2 separate regions of the Homo sapiens genome follow, and region 2 is linked to region 1. Evidence: fine-mapped expression QTL. A gene starts in region 1. The other region holds a variant in brackets. All regions are shown on one strand. Distances are between the middles of the regions.

Region 1 (4,397 bases):
CTGCAACACGATGTAAGTTGTACTCTAAAAAGGCCAATAAATCAATTTGTAATTATTTGAAAGGTATTCAGTTTTGAGGCATTTAACTAATAAATAATTTACAACTACAAGGACTCATGTTACTATTTTATCAGTGACTTTTGAAATATATGCATGTATATCTTTTTTCCGAAGGCAGAAGGCATGCATTTATTAATAACGAAGAGACATGTTGAAACCTAAACTCTATGATTACATTGATACAATTAAAAGACAAACTCAGCTGACTGAAAGCGCACCACAGATTAATCAATATTATCAATGATTAAATGACACGTACTATTTCACACAGAAGCAAAATGTTCTATTAACATTTAATATTTTTCTTTTTCTTTTTTTCTTTCTTGAGACGGAGTCTTGCTCTGTCACCCAGGCTGGAGGGCAGTGGCATGATCTTGGCTCACTGCAACCTCTGCCTCCTGGGTTCAGGCGGTTCTCCTGCCTCAGCCTCCTGAGTAGCTGAGATTACAGACGTGTGCCACCATGCCTGTCTAATTTTTATATTTTTAGAAGAGACAGGGTTTCACCATATTGGTCAGGCTGGTGTCAAACTCCTGACGTTGTGATCTGCCTGCCTTGGCCTCCCAAAGTGCTGGGATTACAGGCATGAGCCACTGCGCCCAGCCTAATATTTAATATTTTTCTTATTTACAAAACTGATAAATGTTGACTGCTGGAAATTTTGGAAAACACAAAAAGCCTTCCTTTTCTTTAATTTCCACATAAGTTTATGACCGCTGTTAAATTTCACTGTTTTCTTCTAATGAAAAAGTTTCAATGTTGATGCCCACAATTAAAACATCAAAGTTTTCAACAATTTTCTTAATAAAAATTTTAGAGTGGCCTAGTTGTCACTGCTAAGATGTTGTTAGCTAGCAGAAAAGACCGCTCTTTCACTTTTCTAAGTGTATCACTAATTTTCTGAGTGGTAATAGAAAAATATATACTTCTATGAATGCATTCTTTCAACTAAATCAACCAATATTACAATGAAACATGAAGGGGTGGGAGAATTGAGAGAGGCAAATTTGATTGGCTTACCTCTGAAATTGTTGGTCCACCTTTCATCTTCATCAAAATGAGCATCCCCTCCAATACCTGGGCCTGGTTGAAAAGCATGAGCAAGATTTCCTCCAGGTCCATCAAAAGGAGAGTTGTCCCGATGATCTGAAAGAAACAATTCAACAAAGATTCCTTGTGGTTCTTATGTAAGCTAAGCCAGAAGGGCAAGCATTAGCTTTGTTAAGAGGCCAACAGACTTCCATCAACTGTGATGCAGTTTCCCTCTTCGAGCCCATAAAATCAACATTCATCTTAAACAATCAATTCCAGTTGCAAAGCTACGAGATCTAGGGGCAAGGTGAGGTTAAGGTGCTATAAGAAGAACTTACCTCCCCTGACAAAAGATATCATGATGTCTGCTTGACCCTCAGAGACCTTGGTGAATGTCAGAGGTGTGACATTACTCCAGAGTTGGAAGGCTTTCTCAATGGCATGGTCCACATCTGCTCTTGGCAAATCTGGCGTGTAATTTTCAATCCTTAGAATGAAACAAAATAGAGACACATTGGACATGACTTCTTACCACTGTCATGGGAAATAGCTCTCTCACTCTGGCCCTCAGTCTGCCTACCTGTAGGTCAGATGTGTTTGCTCCCAGCGAGGGTTCCCCTCAGTGAGGACAAACTGAGCCACATCAGGCACTCCACATCTGGGCTGCTTCATCACCTTCAGGGTTTCAGCATCTGGTTTCCCAGTCACTTTCAGCCCAAAGAATTCCTGCATTTGCTTCAATTTTTCAACCACTGGGCCACTATTTCTCCGCTTTTCAACTTGCCTCCCATCATTCTTCAGGTTGTAGTATTTTTCCAGGTATTTCTGACAAAAGAAAATTATCGAAACACTGCATGGGAAATCTTTCTCATTATTCTAAAAATTGATGGCATTAAGTTTTAGCCAAAACAGAGAACTGCTTTTAAACCTTGTGTTTAGATTTCGCAGTTGCTTTTATCCTTATTTTTGGTGAGAAATGAAATTTCAGAGTAGAAATGTCCCTACTATTAGTTATTGTGAAGTAAGAACTTCATAGTAGAGCAATTTTTGTAGAGCAAGATTTGCATACTGTTACAAGTCTACAATTTGTGGAGACAAGTTTGGATGTTGTTCCTTTAGTTCACTCTCACCTCCAACTGGAAAAAGAGAGCGTATGCATGGCTAGATACATTTTGGGTGGAGGGTGCTGTTTCTAGCAAAAAAAAAAAAAATCTCTTTATAAGAAACCTATCCTTAAAAAACTCTATTACATTACTGCAGAAAAATACAAACTAAAAATTTACATTATTGTCACATGCAATGCAGCATTTACCTGGACTAAGTCCACATCTTGCTCTTGTGTTTCTAGAGTCGCTGGGAAGCTGTGAGACACCACACCCCAGAACAGCAGCAGCAGCAGTGGAGGAAAGCTGTGCATACTGGCCTTTGTCTTCTTTCTCAGTGCAAGGTAAGTGATGGCTTCCCAGCCTCTTGCTGCTCCAATATCCCAGCTAGGAAGCTCCCTCTGTATATATAGAGTCCTTGCCCTTCCAGAAAGCCAGAGGCTGTCTGACTCATGCTTTATAACATCCTCTTGATTAGCTATGAATAGACTAGGCAATCATTAGAAATGGTGACTCCTAGCAGATTATTTGGAATCACTTGGTGTTGCAATGTCATGATTAACTTCAAACAAGATGTGTGCGAAGGAGACACACTCTGCCATGTAAACAGTGGTTTTCTCCAATTCATTTCTTTCCTATTTGAGAAAGGTTCTTGTTATATACACAGGTCAAAGAGTACTCCATGGTCTTTTTGAAAAAGACTGGTTCTGATGGTCATAAAGTGCTACAGGTTTCTCCACACACCTTGCTCCCAGGGCAGAGGGTGGAATTACTAACACTGCGCACCTGATGGCTGTTCGGCACCTGTACTGACTGAAGTTCAGCTCCCCCAGCACTCACTTTACGGTGGCTCTTCGGGGTTCTCTGAGGTTCCCTTCTGCCTTTGTTAAGCTGCCTGGTACCCTATTGCGATAGCACCATGGCTTCCCTTAATCTTTACTCAGAGCCAGGCATGGTGGCTCAAGCCTATAATCCCAGAATTTCAGGAGGCCGAGGCAGGGGAATCACTTGAGCCCAGGAGTTCAAGATCAGCCTGGGCAACATGGTGAGACCCCATCTCTGTAAAAAACAAACAAACAAACAAACATTTTTTAAAGTTAGCCAAGCATGGAGTCATGCACCTGTAGTCCTAGTCACTGAAGAGGCTGAGGTGGGAGGATCACTTGGGCCTGGGAGGTTGAGGCTGCATTGAGCTGTGATTGTGCCGCTGCACTCCAGCCTAGGCAACAGAGAGGGACCCTGTCTAAAATAAAATTTGAAAAAATTTACTCAGGCCTAGGATTTAAGAGCCTTACCTGAGAAGACCCCTCATCCACAGGCGGAGTATGAGATAACTCCCCACCCCTTGCCCATCATTATCATGGGACAAATAGGATCCTTCCCTGAAACTTGTCTGAATGTACCGGATGATGAAAAGGCTGGAAAGAGACTGAGCGTGACTCTGGGGTCTTATTTTTAATCATACTTGTTTCCCTTGATATGAGTCTATCTTCGCTCCTTGGTGCTAGGCAGCATTTATTTATTCTTTCATGTATGCATTCATTCATATATTTATGCATTCCTCCATTCAAAAGATCTTATTTAGCATCTCCTGCCCATTAAAATAAATACATGGCTCTGTAATGAAAGATGTGTATTCCTGTACTTATGTTCCACATTAAATTGTCTTGGGTACTGGTGACCGGTGTCACCAGTGCTATCTGTAGCATTCCTGGTAAGAAAAGTTGGTTTATCTCTGTAGCTCCCCTACTCATGCCCCACTCTCCTTCCTTGGAAGCATTTATTGAAAACATACAGTGGAGAAACACTGGCCTGTTTTATCACTTCAGCACCTTATGGTGTCTCCCACCTTTCCCACTGTATCAGGTTTGCTTTTCAACACTTTCCTCCCCTTATGGATTCCTGTTTTCTTTCTGCGTCAAGACTGATATCTTACTCATAAACAATACTTCAGTATATCTTGGATTGATTTGAGATAAGTCATATCCTTTCTAATTATTTAACTACAATTTCCTCATCTAAGTGGCATAACATGTGAGTTCAAGAGGGTAAGAAGAATGGGAAGACATTCTCACGAAAAGGAAATCCTCTTCTCAGAGGCATCAGAGGGAGGGTGCGGCAGAGACCAAAGAACACTTGCCACTGAAGTGACTCCAGCACAGACAAAGAAAATAGTGAAAGGGGCTCTTCATATTAGAGGGT
Region 2 (4,397 bases), 130 kb after region 1:
TCGCTTTTCTGACATAAGATTTTCAGGTGGTTCTAAGCACCTGCCCAAACTACATGACTCCAGCAGGGAGGAGCAAGGGAGCAAAGATATCTGGGTGACCTCATCTGCATAGATGCCCACTTCATGTGATCTGAGGCAGACAATTTTAAACTTGATCCCCCCCCAACCCCACCATCCATGTACACATATTGCCGCACTCTCAGCCTTGTCTGTACTGATTCTGTGGGCCAATGCAGCTTGTGCCTCCTTCTCCCATAATGCCATTCACTCAAAGGGGGAGCAAAATTTCAAAAACCTTCTTATGATACCAAATTTAAAAAGTGTTTTTTTTTAATGTGTAAGACACTCTATAAAGTATGGGGCCCAGTCTGGGGGTCCTTGCCTTGCTCCAAGGATGGCATGGCTGTGAGCCTGCAGAGCTTCCACCGATCTTCCTCATATTTACAAGCATCCTCACCATGAACTTCCACTTTCCAGGTAACCCGGGGTTTCCCTGTGCCCAGCACTCAAAAATACCTAACTCCAGGACACTAGATCATGAGAAGAGAGACAAATCTCTCTACCTCTCTCCTACTCATTTTATTATATATACATGTATGTATACATTAAGCTTACACAGATATGTACAAATACACATATATGAATATACTTTTCATGATCCCCACCATACACTGAGTTTCCAGTGAGAATACAGAAAAGATAATAGGCAATTTTAAGGCCAAAAAAAAAAAAGGGTTGGGGGAGGCCATGCCCCTAACTCAAACCTGGAGCCAGGGAATACTTCTGAGATGAAGTGACATTTAAAATGAGACTTAAAGGTTGAAGAGGGAGTTAGCTGGGATGGGAAGAATGTCCTATACTAAGGCCAGAAAGGATAGAGAGCATCACATCTTCAAGGAACTGAAAGAATGACTGAAGCTGAGGTTGCAATGGGGTGGGGAGGTATGGAGGTGGGGGAGAGGAGAATGCGGGGCCACAGAGTGAGAGGCAGATGGGGTGCATGGCATCAGGACAGGTGGATGTTTATAAGCCATTCTGAAGAGTCTCAATTGAATTCTGAAAGCCAAGTAGAACCATTGATGGGTTTTATTTTACTTATTTATTTTGAGATGGAGTCTTACTCTGTCCTGCCCAGGCTGGCATGCAGTGGTGCGATCTCGGCTCACTGCAACCTCTGCCTGTCAGGTTCAAGCAGTTCTCCTGTCTCAACCTCCCGAGTAGCTGGCACTACAGGCGTGGGTCACCATGCCCGGCTAATTTTGTATTTTTAGTAGAGACGGGGTTTCACCATGTTGGCCAGGCTGGTCTCGAACTCCTGACCTCAGGTGATCCACTCGCCTTGGCCTCCCAAAGTGCTGGGATTACCGGCATTAGCCACTGACCCCAGCCATTGATGGGTTTTAAACAAGGGAGTGACATGTTGTTCAATAAGGAGGAAGTTACTAGATCCTTTTTTCTCTTTCCTGAAAAAATGATTAAGACTACTAGGTGACTTTGGCCTCTGGTGTATGTTTGCACTTTTGTCTAATGGGGAACTAATTTGGAATTATTTTTGATTAGTAATAAAGGAAAACAATAGATCTGTCCTAAGTATAGAGTAAGAGAAAATGATATTTTGACCCCATGTAGATAATGTTCTAAATAAAATGAACTGATGAAAAACAACTTCTTGAAAACAACAATATTTTAACATTCCATATTTCCTTTTTTTCATGTGTTTTGAGTCATCTATATAAATTTGTACTGAAAAACTTTATGCATTTCTTATCTGATTGATTGGTTCTTTCTACCTAGAAGGCGATTCTTTCTTGTTCAAACCCAGCCCAGATACTCGCACACTGCATAGGGATGGAGGAACAGTTTCTGTTTGCTTTTGGTCAATCATGAACTCCTACGTATCTTGTAAACATGTGAGATGTAACTTCAGGTATACTGGAGAATGAAAAGATCCATCCAGGTCTCAAAGACTTATGATCTAATTAGATCACAGGCAGAGGAGATAAAAAGACAGAGATGCTCGAGAGGTTAACAAAGCAGCTTTGAAGCAGATGTGAAATAACATCTCGAGCAAACTGGGAGTTAGAATTAGCATGTCTCAGTGTGTGTTTATCAGCAAAAGCTGCTAAAAAGTGCTGCAGAAAATGAAAAGGAAGGAATGAAGATTTTATTTCCCTATTATCCAAAGAGCCTGAAGGCAGATGGAAGTTATGGTCAGAACGTGGGTTAAATGAGTCACAGTGTGGAGGAAGCC[A/G]CAAATTTCCATGTAACCCACTCCCATCCCTCAAGTGTCGTCTTTTCCAAATGTGGGTAACCCTGCCATGGGATACGCCCTCAGCTGAGATCCCCTGGATGGGACCCAGAAAGGGGAACAACCATCATTCTTTGTTGTAAAGTCAGTGCACAGAGCATTGCCACCTGAGCCACAAAAGCCTTCAGATGCCATTCATTTCAGCTCAGTTTTGCCCATGCTGTCTTTTGTCCCTCCTGAGGCCTGCATTCTAGGAACACAAGTGACTCACATGAGATCTCCTTGAAGCAAATTTGTCCTTGCAGTGCTCACGTCCAGCAGTAGCCTAAAAATCCTGACAGTTTTACTTCTCTGGCGGCTAGAGGCGGAAAGTCACATTCTAAGAATATGAAGATTGAGGAAGTGAAGCAAGCTCAAATTGCCTCCAGGCCCCTCAGCAGGATCAAGGTGGTGGAGAGCTCCATTAACTTCAACCGGCAAAAGTAGTGGCGGCCTGAGAGAGCCTTAACCTTCATGTGAGCTATAACTTTATTTAAAACTTGTTAGTTTTACTTACATTTTGATCTGTTCTACGTGTTAGAGTAAAAATAACCATGTTCTCTCAGTCTACAAAAGGTCCTCATAGGCAGTCTCTTTTATTTTATTTTATTTTATTTTTATTTATTTATTTGAGACAGAGTCTTGCTCTGTTTCCCAGGCTGGAGTGCAGCTGCCCAATCTCCACTCACTGCACCCTCCGCCTCCCAGGTTCAAGTGATTCTCGTGCCTCAGCCTCCCAAATAGCTGGGATTACAGGCACGTACAACTACACCTGGCTAAATTTTGTATTTTCAGTAGAGACAGAGTTTCACCCTGTTGCCCAAGTTGGTCTTGAACTCCTGGCCTCAGGTAATCTGCCCGCTTTGGTCTCCCAAAGTGCTGGGATTACAGGCGTGAGCCACTGCACCCAGGCAGTCTCATTTATTTTCAACAATCTGGATGTCTCTTTGTCCATGGTCAGTGGGGTTCACTTGACCATGTACTTTGGGGTTTTTCACACTGAGGATCATAATTTTCTTTCAGGCTTTCTTTCCTCAGTGATTTCTCTGCTATTTTGCTACTTCTCCTTAGCTTTTCTCTGAGTCTTCGCTAAATCTGTTAAGTTGTAGATATGTGCAGGACTACAAGAAGTATTAAAAGAGTTTTTGAACAAGCAAGGAAAACACTCTTATTAGAAATATATATCAGTCATCTCATATACTGTGGAGTCAGTACATCAGAGTGGTTAAGAACATGAACTTTGGGATCACACAAAAGTCCACACCCTGATTCTATTTCTTACTGGCTGTGTTTCAAAGAAAACTCTTAACCTCTTCAAGCCATGGTTTTTTCTCCTATAAAGTGAGCTTAATAATAGAATTACTATATCTGTCTGTTGAGAAGATCAGATGATACAGACATAACACACTCAGCATAGTGCATGGCGCGTTGTGTGTGTTCCACAAATGTTAGCCATTAGTAATAAGACTGTAATTATTGAGGAATCAAAGAAAAGTAAAGAATGGATCCTTCTCTCAAGGGGAAAATGTTTTACTTGCCTCCACTAAGGTGGAGAAAAAGACAATTCTGCAAATAATCATAAAATATGAAGGGTATGTACTGCAAATCTGTTTTGCTTTGTTTGCCAGCAGAATATTCTCTGTCTTTTAGTAAAAGCACCCAACTTCTGTTCTGAGGACCTTTCCCTTCCTTGTCCCCCAGGGTCATTGTGCTATGGGCTGTAAGTCTAGTCAGCCCTATACTGCCCCACCAAGAGTGGCTGATGGCCTTCAGCCAAGAGAACACAGCTCTCTCTTCCTGGAGTTTCCCTCTTGGGTAGACTAGTATAAGATGGAAGCAGGAGAGCAGAATCATCTCAGTGGAGTGCCAGAGGAAGTCTGGGTTCCTGCTCCAATATATCAGGACTCTGTTGGATCCTGTCCTTCCTGATATATAGGAGTTGAGCTTTACTTTCAATTCTGTGAACTCCCCAGCATCCTTAGCTAGAATTCAGTTCTACTACTTGCATTCAAAGAGCCCCAAAAGATACAAAATGGAATTAAAACCAAAATAGAAGAGTTAAGTGCTGTGTTTAGAAGGCAGATGACATTGGTCTAGTGTGACAAAGGGT

What was found. PIP is the estimated chance that this variant, and not a neighbour inherited with it, causes the effect.
Region 2: its variant is fine-mapped to the expression of MMP1 in whole blood (TOPMed, PIP above 0.99).

Annotation. Positions count from the first base shown.
Region 1 is chr11:102,795,584-102,799,980 of GRCh38, forward strand. MMP1 (matrix metallopeptidase 1) reads right to left here and starts at 2,577. Exons shown (of 10, transcript NM_002421.4): 1 at 2,405-2,577; 2 at 1,673-1,917; 3 at 1,431-1,579; 4 at 1,081-1,206; 5 at 1-24. The coding sequence starts at 2,509. It also overlaps the pseudogene WTAPP1.
Region 2 is chr11:102,922,659-102,927,055 of GRCh38, forward strand. No RefSeq gene overlaps it. Among named protein-coding and RNA genes, the nearest start is that of MMP13, 31 kb to the right of the region's middle. The variant A/G (reference allele first, on the strand shown) is at 2,252.